Linked DNA regions of Homo sapiens. The protein of the gene in region 1 interacts with the protein of each later gene in a pairwise test. Each region holds a gene or a part of one and is shown on either strand. Other genes may lie near its edges.

Region 1 (7,027 bases):
GCACGGCACTTATTAAAATACTTGGTGTATAACCCCCTGCCCTGTTACATATTAGCACATGGAATTACAGAGGGCCCCATGATTTGTATAAGAATCTCCAGGGAAGCAAAGTCACCTTTTGGAAATAACACCTGAGATTTGTGTCTGGGACCATGCTTACCAGATGTCAGAGCATCATCTGATCAGTGAGCAACAGATTGCTCAAACTGGCCAAAGTGTGGTGGCTACGTGGTGGCTCCACAAAGGTGCCCAATCTCCCAGCTTTGGGCCCTACCATGTAATGATGAGAGAAACCTTCTCTTCTCCTTCTCTGCCAAGTCCAGGGTTTGCCAGCTGCTCAGTAATAGGTTTGTTTTTCTGGGATGAGACAGTTGCTGCCTCTTAGAAGATGGCAAAACAAAGCCTGTAATCCCCCCCATCCAATTGTGCAGTAATCCTCAGGGTGAGAAGGAGATCAGGGAGAGAGAGGACTTCTCTCATTTCATTTAACAAACACACTGTAACACTAATGCTCGCTACTATTGTAAGCACTTTACCAGCCTCGGCTCATGTAATCCTCATAACAACCCTAGGAGTAGGTACTGTTACCATTGTTCTCGTACTCCTTTTAGAGACAAAGAAACAGAGGAATTGAGAGGTGAAATAACTTGCTTAAGGTCTTATAGCTAGAAAATGGCACAGCCAGGGATTGAACCCAGGCAGACTAGCTCCCAGAGTTCACACTGCTGAGCTGCCTCTCACAGCTTCTGTGAGTGACACAGTTGCTCTGCAAAGCCAGGGGCAGCAGCACACCCCCAGGGAGCTCCCGGTGCTCCAATACAACCTCAGATATGCAGCCTCAGCACTGACTGGTTGTTGCAGACCCAGTGGACTGGCCATTGAGGAATAAGCCATGGGATAGGTTAAGAGCAACGGTGATCTCTGCAGAATTAATTGGTGGCTTCCCTTGGGTACATACTTATTTGCAAGAGTCCTGTCCAACTGACCCTGACCATTCATGTAGAATAGTTGCTTTCACTTGAAAATAGCCATAGAGAAGGGGTTGAGTTGGACCTGCTTGTATGTGTGCGTGTGCACATGTGTGTATATGCTAGAACATATTTTTCCCCTCCACAGATATGTGGGTGGCTAATTGGAACCTATCATGGGCATAAGTGGTTAAGGTTTATGTGGAAAGGAGTAACTGTTTATGAGATTTAGGAAGGAACATATTTCGTATAAACTATTTTCTAAAACATTTACAATCTCACCAAGAGATAGAGAGCTGAATAGCAACTGGGGGAAGAAATTGTGCAAAGAGAATCTAAATGCCCCACCTCTTCCTTCCCCTCATTATGAAGCTTCTAGGTCTGCAGAGAACTTAGCCACCAGCATTGGATCGCGGGTGTGCCAGGGGCTCCCAGAGGAAGCTGGTGTTTTCTCCTCTTTTTAAAAGTAGAAGACACAGAGGCCCAGGGAATGAAGTTAATTTTCTAGAATGCATGGGCTTTGGTGGCTCTCATGAGATTGACTCAGCCCTGGCTCAGTGATCCTCAGAAAAAAGTGAAAATACAGGTTGAGTATCCCTAATCCAAGCATCTAAAATCTGAAATGCTTCAAAATCCAGAACTTTTTGAATGCCAAAATGATGCTCAAAGGAAATGCTCGTTGGAGCATTTTGGATTTCAGATTTCTGGATTATAGATGCTCAATTGGTAAGTATAATGCAAATATTCCAAAATAAAAAAAAATCCTAAATCCAAAACACTTCTGGTGCTAAGCATTTTGGATAAGAGATACTTAACCTGTATCAACTCGTTTCATAACTAAAACACCACTTTAAGGTCGGTAGTTTTATTACCCCCATTATACAGATGTAAAAACTGGGGGACAGAGAAATTAATAATTTGCCAAAGGGAACTTGGCTAATAAATGATAAAAGTGGCATTTGAATATGAGGAAAAGCAGCAGATCTGGATTTTAATCCCAGCTCTACCATGTACTATACTGTACTACTCTGTAAATTCTTACAGCAGTTACCCAGCACAGACCTTCCTGCCCCTTCCCAATTCAATACTTGGCCTCTCCCAGGATTTTGACCCTGGCCTTTCTCACTAGAACACTCCACATCTTGACTCTATCTCTTCACAATTCAACCCCTAGTTTGGGTTCCCTTCCTCAGGGCTCCCAGCCCAGCCTAATCTTCTTCTCCCTCCTCTTTCCACATAACAGCCACTCAGACACCAGGGATTAGCTAATATGCATTTCTTATATTTGAATTATTATCAGCATATTCAAGGGGACTTTCCTATAAACATTTAGGCTGCACAATCACCCTGAGATGGAATGGGAAGGTATTTTATAACTGTTTTACTGGTGCAAAGCTTTACATTTTAACCGATGTAGAAAACAAGATGTTAGACATTAAATTTCCAGTGAATGGGGAGCAGAGAGAAGCTTTCTTCTGATGGGAAGGAAACCTTCTCTGCTATGGAAGCCCTTTCTGGCTTCCTCAGTGGGGAAAAATCAAGGAATGTGTTGGAGAGTGGAGAGCATGTAGAAGAGGCCCTCCTTCTGCCCCCAGAGGCTCAGGCCTCTCAGCCTCTCAGTGGGAATGTGAGAATGAAAGCATGCATTAGCTGATGGGTTGACGCTGCTGCATGCTTCACGCAACCCCAGTTCGGACCAGCTGGCTAGCCTTTCGAAGCCGCACAGGGCAGTTCCACCTGGATTCATGTAGCCCCCAGAGAAGGGCTGATGAGCTGCTCAGGGTGGGAGCTGGGGTTGCTTCCGGTGCTTGAAGGAAGGGGGAGGGAGAGAGTGGCATCCCTGCCTCTCTCCCTCTCCTCCACCCCCCTCCTCCCCTCGCTCCCACTCCTCCCATCTTCCTCCACCCCCGCCCCCCTCCCCTAAAATCTGTAATGATGGAGGTAGTGAAAAGCAGGGAAAGATTGATAATCAGCCTCATTATTACCAGCATTATATATAATTATAGCAAAACCTCACTCATTTGGATCAATTGAGAGAAAAATCAGTCTAAATTCGTGACAAGTTGGCAGATTACTTTTAAATTACAATTTTATTACTTCTAAGTAACACATGTGAACAGTTTGTGTTTCAAGTACCACAAGCTAATGGTTACTCAGTGGGGATTTTAGAAAACCTGCTTTAAAAGATTCTTTTGTAATTAACACCCCGTTAATATGCCAATGTGCTCCTTCTATGCTTTTTAAATTGCTTGAAAACATATGTATCTTAAATAGGCTTAACATTTCTACCATCTTATTTGCTTAACAAACCTTTTTTATTATTATTTTGTGAATGAACAAATACAAACTAGTTTATACCATGACCAGTTTAGTCACCACTCTGAATTAATTATGTTGTAAATTAATAAGACCATGTTGGTTGTTTTTGTTTAGAAATCAGACTTTTAGAACTTGAAGAACCACCTCATTTTATAGAAGAGAGGTTGAGAGACTTGCCCAAGGCCATATAGGCAAAAACAGCAGGTCTTCTGGCCCCTGGGTCCAAGTTTATTCCGTCTGCTAGATAATGCCTTACATTCCTAAAACTCTTTATGAATATGTGCTATTTATTTCCATACCAATCATTGGGTTATCTGTCAAAAAATATTTGGTGAGTGTCTATTCTGTGCCAAGCCGTGTGCTTAATCCCCATATAATGGGGATAATAAAACTACGGACCTTAAAGTGGTGTTGTAGTTATGAAATGAGTTGATGCAAGTTAAGTATCCCTTATCCAAAATGCTTAACACCAGAAGTGTTTTGGATTTGGGATTTTTTTTTTATTTTGGAATATTTGCCTTATACTTACCAATTGAGCATCTATAATCCAAAAATCTGAAATCCAAAATGCTCCAATTAGCATTTCCTTTGAGCATGATATTGGCATTCAAAAAGTTCTGGATTTTGAAGCATTTCAGATTTTAGAGGCTTGGATTAGGGATACTCAACCTGTATTTTCACTTTTTTTCTGAGGATCGCTGAGCCAGGGCTGAGTCAATCTCAGCACAACAGATAGAGGGGCCCCTCCTGGAGGCCACCGTCTATTTCATTCAAACTTCAAACTGACAGTGTAGTCCGTAAGGCGGAAATTATTCCCATTAGACAGATTAGGAAACTGAGGTTTAGAGTGATAAAGTGGCCCTTTTAAGGCCTGCTGCAAATTATTATAGATCTAGAATTTGAGTCTAGTCTAGCAGAATTTCTGTGAACATTTCTGCATATAATGAATGACATTTTGCTTGCACACCACCTTTCCCAGCCAGCACCAAATTATAGACCTTGCTAGTACAGATGGATATTATGCCATCTCTAACAAATGAGAGGCTCCAGGGGATCCTGCTAACGAGGACCGGCTGGCTGTCCCTTTAAGCCAATTCCGTATACTGGTACATCATGTACCAGTTAGTCCATGGAGGCAGATGTCAATGAGTGTTTGAAGCAGATGCCAATGAGGGTGCCCCCAGTTCTCCTCTCGTTCCTAAAGTCCTTGAACATCAATTATGTGCACACCCAGCTCTTGAATCCATGACCTCTGTCCATTACTGTCTCTGGATTTCTTGTTCAGATAGGCTCTCTCTATCTGAACAGGGCAATCTCTATAGATTGTCTTCTAAAGACGGCAGTCTCTTAAAATACAGCGAACTATATTCCTAGTCCCATGTTACCATTGGGTAATATTCAGAACATTATCTGTTCTCAGGTTCTAAATCCCTGAATTCTTTGAATCCATTCACTTAAACTCAGCCCTAAGAAAAATGTGCAGAAATAATTAATCTCCAAATATTTTGAAGACATCAGAGCTTGTAACTAGTTTGTACATTCTGCCAGGGCAGGGAATGGGCTTCATGCTCTTGGTGTCTTACACAGCCCATATACAAGCAGATGCTTAGCCAGGCGTGCTGGCTGACTGACTGACTGGCATTCTTCTTGGTCTAGGGTGTTCTTCCCCTGCTCTCCAACTTCTGCTCTCCACATCGCTAGGGCTGTGAAAACAGATACTGTGAGCCCTGAACCCTCCAGGAGGCTGCTTCCCCATGACACTAGTGACCAGTAAAATGAAAAGGAGGAGCAAAGGAGATTTTGAGTCACAGAAATGAAACCCAGGCAACCAGCCTAGAAGAAACACTCCAAGATATTCATTAAGTGCTTTGTTTCCCGTTCCTCTGACATCTTGTAAATGCTTTTTGAATTAAAGATGATAACAGGCTTTTCCACTTTTCAAGTTTGGTTGTTAATTCTGAAATCCCACCAGGAGTTTGGGATTGATCTTTAACCTTGAAACTCTTGCTGTCCCCCACTTCTGTCCCCATCTGGTTACAGTAGCTGATAAAAGAGGCCAAGGAACTCCAGGTTGTTCCATTTGCATTTGAGGAAATGGAGGGGGTCAGGACTTCTCAAGGTCACTGCCTGGGGTGAGGGTCTCCTGAAAATGATAGGAGTTGGAAGTCCCAGGTCATGGCTCCCTTTCTGTCTGACCTCATGAGTGCCTGCCCTGGGATGATTTGTTAAAACGTAGTTTTCTGAAAATGGTGCTCCCTCCGAGGCAGAATCCATGTCTTATTTACTTTGTCAGCATCTCATAGTGTGCAGTCTGACACTTTAAGAACAGGCGAATCTCCTCTAAGAAAAAGGTACATACCAAATTCTAGCTAAATTTAGTGCCATAGTCTCCAGATTTTCTATAAAGGGAGCTAACTTTTATTATGTGTTTACAATTTTCCAGGCTTGATTTTATTTAACCCTCACACTGTGGAAGGTTAACCCTTACCCCATGTGGTTGGTGGCATTGAGCTATTTTACCAAAGGGTGGGAGGAGGACTCACTGTGGTTCAGCCCCCTCTACTCCCCTTCCTGCCATCCTAGGTGGCTCCAAGGGGACTCAGGGAAACTCAGTTTGAAGACCACAAACAGCCACAGGTCATGGGCAAGCCATACCTCCTTTCCCCAGTGTCCTTGCTTGTAACCGAGGGGTTGAACTCGATGATCTGCAGGCCCTTCTGTGTAGCTTTGACAGTCAATCCAGCTCTGTGAGGGGAAAGCTGGAGGAAGAGCAGTGTGGAGCTAAGGTGTTGGGGATCACTGCTAACTGAAGAGCAATCAGAAATGGTAATGATAATAAAACTTCTCCAGAATGATCCCCTAGAGGTCTGCAAGCTTATTGGAATGCAGCCACATCTGTGTGCACTAGCTTACCCATTGATTGTGGCTGCTTTCACACTACAAAGGATATTGTGAGTAGTTGTCACAGAGATGGTACAGCCAGCAAGACTGAAATGCTTACTGTCTGACCCTGGAAAGAAAAAGTGTGCCAACCTCTACTCCAGAATGCAAAATTGGGTTTCACATATTAAAATAAATTGAGGTCCACCTGGAAAAGTATTTTAATCCTTGTTTTATTAGCACCTTTGGGGGCCCAGTCCCCTGCCTCCCACTCCTAGTCATTTTGTTCATTTGGTGCAATTATGTGTGTTCAAAAGGAAAAGAATGCATTATGATCCATAAGTAAGTTGTGAAGAGCATAGGGTAAGAATTGAGTATCTTAGTTGTTCTTACATATAATCCACCCATTTGGGGCTTATCTGGGCTTACCTTCCACTATCTCCCCTCCATCCTGGCAAGTGGCAAGCGCAGTGCAGGAGTTCAGCACAGCGGCCCCGGCACAAGACTGCTTGGATTTGGATCCTGGCCCTGCTCTTTACCAGCTAGCGGGTCTTGGGCAGTTTGCTCAATCTCCCTGTGGCTCCACTTTCCTGTCAGTAAAATGGGGATGAGGATACTAATAGTACCTTATTTCCAAGCGCCCTTGAGACTATTAAACAAGATGATGCATGCCATGCCCTTGGAAGGGTGCGTGGCACATAGAAGTTGCCTAATAAATGTTAGCCACTCCAAGCTGAGTATCCCTTATTGGAAATGCTTGTGAATCAAGATATTTCAGATTTTGAATCTTCTTTTGATTTTGTGATGTTTACATTATGTGCTTACTTGTTTTGCATTCCTAATCCAAAAATCCCAAATAC
Region 2 (7,027 bases), on another chromosome or scaffold:
AGTGGCTTAAGCTCCACGGTCAGCGTCCTGTCACCACTCGGAATCCACCTCCACTCTTCCCTCCAGGTAGATCCAGGGAGAAGGGAGGGCATGTCAGTTTCTTTTGGGTTTGGACCAAAGAACCAAAAAAAGATGAGGATAGAATCTGGTTCTCCTCTCCTAGATCCCAACTTAGCCTCAACCACCCCAACCCCCTCCCAACCTCCTCCACGGAGCAGTGGCGCAGTGATGGGGCAAGACCAAAGCAGGGAGATGGGCCCAGGCTGGGGAGTGAGAGGAGGTGTGGGGCAGGGCTGCTGCTGCCCCGGGCACGCAAAGCAGGAGGGAAGGCGAGCCTAGCGGGCTGCCCAGCACGGCGCCCAAGCGCTCACTGGTCTAGTGGACAGCCCGGGAAAGGGGGCCAAGGACCCGGGAGCCCGAGTTGGGGCCGCCAGGGAAGTGTGGGGGGCGGGAGACAATGTCGGCCCCGTGGTCGGTGCGGGCCCTGGCATTTGCCCGGAACGTCAGCCTGTAGGTCTCAATCTGCAGTGACATGGGAGGAGGGAAGGGAGAGGGGAACAGGGGAGACAAGAGGGGAACACGGGGGAGACGGAAGACGAGACCAGAATGTCATCATTAGATGCCTGGAAAATAAAAGGTTACTTCATTAAAATTTAGGCCACACTCTAGTCAAAAACAAAGGAGTTTCAATTTGCGGCCAGTGGCAGGGCCCCTGGCTGGCCCTTAGGCCGAGCCCAGCCACTTACTTGTCTCCTGGATCTGGCTGTCCAAGGTCTGGGCCTCCCTTTGGTCACCACCCCCTGACAGGGTGGGGTGGCCATTGAGGCCACTGGCTGAAGTGGGGGCGCCAGCTTCAGGCGCTGCCTCAGAGATGGCCGGCTCCTCCCCAGCAGGGGGACCCGGACACAGAGGAGCCTCGCTGCCACCGCCCTCAGTCTACAATGAAACAGTGGGGGAGACAGTGCAGGGTCAGTCGAGGGGGGGAGTGGGATGGGGTGATGGTGGTGGGTTTCACACACAGCCCCCACCCTTGCTGCCCTGGCACCCACTGGCTCAAGGCACAGTCGCTTGGAGAATCCCAGGCAGGTGCCCCGGCCCCACCCACCCCACCTCACCTGGGAGACCGACTCCCGAGGGTCAGGAGCAGCTGGACCAGTGACACACTCTCAGAGCCCCTCTGTGGCATGTGAGGCTCTGATGAAGCCTCTCTGAGGGCAGAGGTGCCAGGCCTCAGGCTGGTACCAAAGACGTAGCCATGACAACAGTAAGCAATAAGCCTGAAGGGTAGCCCCCTGAAGGGTACAGCCCACCCTCCCAAACCCTCCCTGAACCCAGGCCACCCCCTGCACACAGAGTGGGGTCCTCAGTAGCTCCCGGGCAGCCCTGCCTGCACATCTGTCTGGTCAGGAACACAGGTGCTGAGGCCTTGTCTGTGCGGGGCACCATTCTGGGACCAGGGGTCCATGGGAGGCAGAAAGGTGTCCAAGGAGGTATAACCCAGGGACACTGTGGAGGCCTGGAGGGCGTCATAGGAGGAGGACATTTGGGGGACATGGAACACTCAGTGTGAGGAAGGCAGAGAAGAGAGAACAGCTGCGAGAGGCCACTGGGGAGCTGGAAAGCGTGTGTCGCCAAATACCCAAAAAGTGACAAGGGAGAAGTGGTTTCTAATCGGCATAGTGAGAAATAGGCCTCGATTAAAAACAATAATTCCAGAACTAATAAAGGGATATAATGTGAACAAGGAAAAGAACACAAGGCTTAGGGTCAGAAAAGCCCAGATGTGAATCCTGGTCCACGCTCGCTCGCTGTGTCCTTGGAAAAGAGACTAAAGCCAAGTTAACGCCCCACTGAGACGGGCGTGAGAACGGCATCCTCACGAGGTATGGGGGGCACGAACTGAGAGCCTGTGGCAGCAAGGACCCCCCCAGATGTTCCTGGAAGCTGATCAAGGCTTCAGTCAGAGCATCAGGAGAGGATGGGACAGGGGACGGGCTGGGCAGTGGCTGGCACTGGGGAGCAGAGATGGAAGGGAAGGCCCAGGGCAGCGGCTCCTGGCCCCTCTCCCCTGCGCACCTGAACCCGAGCAGCAGCAGCCATCCTTGTGCTCGGGGTCTGCAAGATGCCCCTCATGGGCCCCCCACCCACGGATGACATGGAACATAGGACAGACAGCATCTTGGCACACAAAAGGTCTCACAGTACTGTGGAAGGAGGAAGGGAGGAAAGAGGAGAGAGGGAAGGGAGAAGAGGCCCAGCCAGTCGTGAGGATGGGAACCTCTGCCACTTGAGCTCTGTCCCAGAGCCCTGCAGAGGGAGGCCCCAGGCAGGCCCTGCAGAGGGAGGCCCCAGGCAGGCCCTGCAGAGGGAGGCCCCAGGCAGCCTGCTGTCGCTGGCAGCTAAGAATGTGCTGTCCTGCTCCTAACCCAGGAGCGGAGCCTGACATGGGGCGGGAACCCACATTCCCCTTGGCGCGAGACAGCTGGGGAGAACTGTGTGGTGCAGAACCCCCGCTCGCCTGGGGGTGGTCTGTGTCCCAGTCCGTGGCCTTCTCAAATGGCTGGATGGGCTCAATTAGGAAGGCCATGGCTCTCAGGAGCAAGGTTCTGCCTCCAGCTGACAGGTGAGGGGTGGCTGGGCTGGGGCCTCTTCACTTCTGCCTCAGTCAGGACTGATGATACACGGTGGGAAAACGGCAATGGTGTGGGTGAAGACATGACTCCTGAAGAGACTGAGGGGCGGTGACAGGTGCCTACCTGTGAGGACCCTGACCCTAACTGCATAGTTCCCACCCCTCCCCAGCTGTGTCTCCCCAGTGACCCACTCGCTACCTTCACAGCACCTCCTGCAGGTAGGTGGCCCACATTATCGAGGGATCCCACCTTGGCCTGGGCCTTCTCCTTGAAGTTCAACTTCTGACTTTCAATCTTGACATCTCCTCCACCTGGAACCACAAAGGAACTGGTCACCTAGGGTGGCAGAGGAATATCCCTGCAGGCAAAACCAGGACTAGCGATATGCCCAATCTAGAAATGAGACAGACGTGACCTGTTCTGGGTGGCAAATGAAGAACAGTGAACACGTTTGTCTAAAGAGGACTTCTCATATCACAGTGAGGCTGAGACAATCTCTCCGTCCAGCCAGTGGGAATACCTCCAAGAAAAGGAAAGCCATCCCTTCCACCACCCCATGCCACAGCCACTGAGCTGCAGGCCAGGCTTGGGCAGGCCTGGGGCTCCGAGCACAGCCTCCAGGGCGAAGCCTCTGCTTCTCTACTCTGTGTGGGAATGCCCTCCCGCTAACTGGGCCATGCAGTGCTTCTCAGGCACAGCCTCACTGAATTCTCATGAATGCCCTGTCATCACGGCCACGGTCCCTGCTTCCCAGCCGGTAAAACTGATGCTGCAAAAGAGAAGGGACTCACCCAGAGTTACCACCAATCTGCTGATTGACAGTGACAGGTTGTGAAAATTGTCTGAGACCCTAAACCGTACCACACTCTAGCAAAAAGAAGGAATAATAAAAAGGACAGAGTGGCCCCGAGGCTGTGCGCTGAGGAAGGAAAGACATGGACCAAGGCAGGCCTGGGATCTAGTGACCTCAGGCTAGGACGGGGAGGGAAAGTGGTCTGAACTCACGCCCAGGGTTCAGAGCTCACTGGCCAGAGTGTGCCCATGAGACCAAGGGGAAGGGTGCGGGACGAGCTGCCCTCAATGAGTACCCAGCCCCTCCCGCGCCCAGCAGCGTGGTTTCCCTTGGGCCCCTTCTCCTGTTCTTCCATCTCCTCTCAGCTCACATGGCAGACCTCCACGCACAGCTTCTGGCCGAGGTCTCCCGGTGTCCCATATTGGGAAACCCAGCCCTGGCAAAAACTAGACCCTAAGTGACTCAGTGTCATTAGAGAAGGAAGTATCTGATAGGAGATTTCCCAGATAAAAGGGGAAAAAAATGGTTAGTTAAGGACAGAACTGTTTTGATCTTTCTAAATAGAACACATTCTAAACTGGATCATGCTCTTCGCTGAGAGGGAAAGGGAGTTTTTTTTTTTTCTTTTTGGAGACAGAATTTCGCTCTGTTGCTCAGGCTGGAGTGCAGTGCCATACTCTCGCCTCACTGTAGTCTCTGCCTCCTGGGTTCAAGCAATTCTCCAAAGGCATGCACCACCACACCTAGCTAGTTTTTGTATTTTTAGTAGAGACAGGGTTTCACCATGTTGGCCAGGCTGTTCTCAAACTCCTGACCTCAAGTGATCCGCCCGCTTTGGCCTCCCAAAGTGCTGGGATTACAGGCATGAGACACCGCGCCCGCCCTGAGGGAAGAGAGTTTTGCCTTCACCTTATCTGGCCTGTGGTGGCTAGCCTTCTGGGATACCAGGTCTGCCAGCCAGTGTGCCTGCTGCTACAGCAGTCCTACTCACAAATCTGCTGTAGACCCAGGAACTAGGACACGAGGCTGCTAGGGGACTACCCAAGGCAAGAGCCCAGCCTCCGCACAGCGACTTCCACAGGGGCGCTGGGCCAACCATGTTGCTGGAAGGAAACTGCATTAGTGCAAGTTGCTGAACGCCTCCCATTCTCCTGCCAGGGCTAGCGGCTGATGCTTCACTGGTTGGGAGCACCCTTTGCTCCTGCATCTGATAGGTGGGACCTGAACACTGCCCTCTATACAGCTCCTTCAGCAGTAGCTTCTGTAATCCTCGTTTAGAGCCAATCCAGGTTCTCAGCTCAGAGTGCACCACTTCCCCAGGCCTAGCTCAATAGTTCCACACACACAGTAGGTACTCAAGAGAATGCCTGTGCAGATGGCTGCTGTAAGAAACTGCTCCTCCTCCACTTAGAGGTTAGCACCCGAACTCCTGCTCCCTGACAGAATGAGGACTGTGGTGTCCTGGGTAGTCTTCATGGGATGCTAAAGGCACAGAGATGAAACCCTTGCCAGCCAGCTGGCTGCCCAGCTGACCCATGGCAGGACGACATACCCTGGAGACCCAGTGGGCAAGGGAGGCACCACTCACCAGGCTTGTGCTTGATGTTAGCCTTAGACCCACACTTGGAGGAGACCTTAGAGATGTCCACTTTCTTGTTCTGAATCTGAACCTGAAGAGAAGGACACAAAAGACTCATTCAGAGAGAAGGTATACTGTCAGAGCCAACCCCATGCTACCTTTTAAATCTTCTCCATGTTCAGGGTTTCTCGCTCCCTCTGTAAGCTGCTATCTCAGTCTGGTCAAAGACAAGGTCATCTCCCTAAGTACTTAAAAGAGCCCTCGACCCACCCTGGCCCTGCTCTTCACTTCCTTTTTTTTTTTTAAAGATGGAGTCTCGCTCTGTTGCCCAGGCTGGAGTACAGTGGTACGATCTCAGCTCGCTATAACCTCCGCCTCCTGGGGTCAAGCAATTCTCCTGCCTCAGCCTCCCGAGTAGCTGGGATTACAGGCGTGTACCACCACATCTGGCTAATTTTTTGTATTTTTAGTAGAGACAAGGTTTCACCATGTTGGCCAGGCTGGTCTCGAACTCCTGACCTCAGGAGATCCACCCACCTCAGATTTCCAGAGCCCAGAGTGTTGGGATTACAGGCGTGAGCCACCACGCCTGGCCTTCACTTTTTTTTTTTTTTTTTTTAAGACAGAGTTTCACTCTTGTTGCCCAGGCTGGCACGATCTTGGCTCACCCCAGCCTCCATCTCCCGGGTTCAAGTGATTCTTCTGCCTCAGCCTCTGGAGTAGCTAGGATTACAGGCATGCGCCACCACGCCCAGCTAATTTTGTATTTTTAGTAGAGACAGGGTTTCTCCATATTGGTCAGGCTGGTCTCGAACTCCTGACCTCAGGTGATCCGCCTGCCTCAGGATCCCAAAGTGCTGGAATTACAGGTGTGAGCCACCACGCCCGGCCACCAGCCTTCACTTCTAACCCCACCTCCAGCCAGACCAAACCACCATTTCCACACCCCACAGGTCTTTCTGTGCAGACCCTGTCCATGCATGCTCCAGACAGCTCTTCTGTCATTTCACCAGGTCCAAACACCAGCACCAAGGCTCCCATGAAATATCCCCTTTATTCCATCTCAAATCCTTACCTATCAACTCCTTGCCCAGAGAACCTGGAATAACATATTTACTTCTAGTCCTTTTCAATGCATTTTCCCCTTGGGAGAGGTGAGGGGGTGGTGTGTGTGTGTGTGTGTGTGTGTGTGTGCGCGTTGTGTGTGTGTGTGTGTGTGTGTGTAATCATAGTATTCCTGCTTAATCCATGTTATAACAATTTTCCCAGCCAGGTGCAGTGGGTCATGCCTGTAATCCCAGCACTTTGGGAGGCTGAGGCAGGCAGATCACCTGTGGCTAGGAGTTTGAGACCAGCCTGGCCAGCACAGTGAAACTCTATCTCTACTAAAAATGCAAAAATTTGCATTTAAAGGTGGTGCACCTTGGCTGGGCACGGTGGCTCACGCCTGTAATCCCAGCACTTTGGGAGGCTAAGGCGGGCGGATCACGAGGTCAGGAGATCGAGACCATCCTGGCTAACATGGTGAAACCCCGTCTCTACTAAAAATACAAAAAAAATTAGCCGGGCGTGGTGGCAGGTGCCTGTAGTCCCAGTACTCGGGAGGCTGAGGCAGGAGAATGGCATGAACTCGGGAGGCAGAGCTTGCAGTGAGCCGAGATCGTGCCACTGCACTCCAGCCTGGGCAACAGAAAGAGACTCCGCCTCAAAAAAAAAAGGTGGTGCATCTTTAAGTCTATAGCCATGCATGCCCTCTGGGTTGCTGGATGGGGATTCCAGCATTCCTGTGAGCGGCCCCGCTGTCCTCTGGTAGGTACTGTGGGAGAGCCTGACTTTCCAACACATCAACTCCATGCAGTGTTGCACCATTCTGGTGGGTTTCACCACAAGCTGTTAAATGGTGAGCTACCTTCTTGAGCCCTGTTTTCCCTTCTTTGGTGTCAGGAAATATAGTCTTCACCATGTTTCCAGAGGACAGATATAATGCCACCAGTATTTTTGTATTTGCACCCACAGCCCAAG

The links. The genes of interacting proteins can lie anywhere in the genome.
Region 2: the proteins of RXRG (region 1) and MAP4 interact in a two-hybrid assay, tested with the Homo sapiens proteins (one study listed by BioGRID).

Annotation. Positions count from the first base shown.
Region 1 is NC_000001.11:165,435,118-165,442,144, reverse strand, and holds part of RXRG (retinoic acid receptor RXR-gamma), read left to right. Parts: intron 1-4,943; exon of another isoform or gene 4,944-5,214; intron 5,215-7,027. UniProt on the Homo sapiens protein: Receptor for retinoic acid. Retinoic acid receptors bind as heterodimers to their target response elements in response to their ligands, all-trans or 9-cis retinoic acid, and regulate gene expression in various biological processes.
Region 2 is NC_000003.12:47,852,417-47,859,443, forward strand, and holds part of MAP4 (microtubule-associated protein 4), read right to left. Parts: intron 5,097-7,027; coding exon 5,015-5,096; intron 2,945-5,014; coding exon 2,832-2,944; intron 937-2,831; coding exon 747-936; intron 642-746; coding exon of another isoform or gene 616-641; exon of another isoform or gene 523-615; coding exon 518-522; coding exon of another isoform or gene 376-517; 3' UTR 1-375. UniProt on the Homo sapiens protein: Non-neuronal microtubule-associated protein. Promotes microtubule assembly.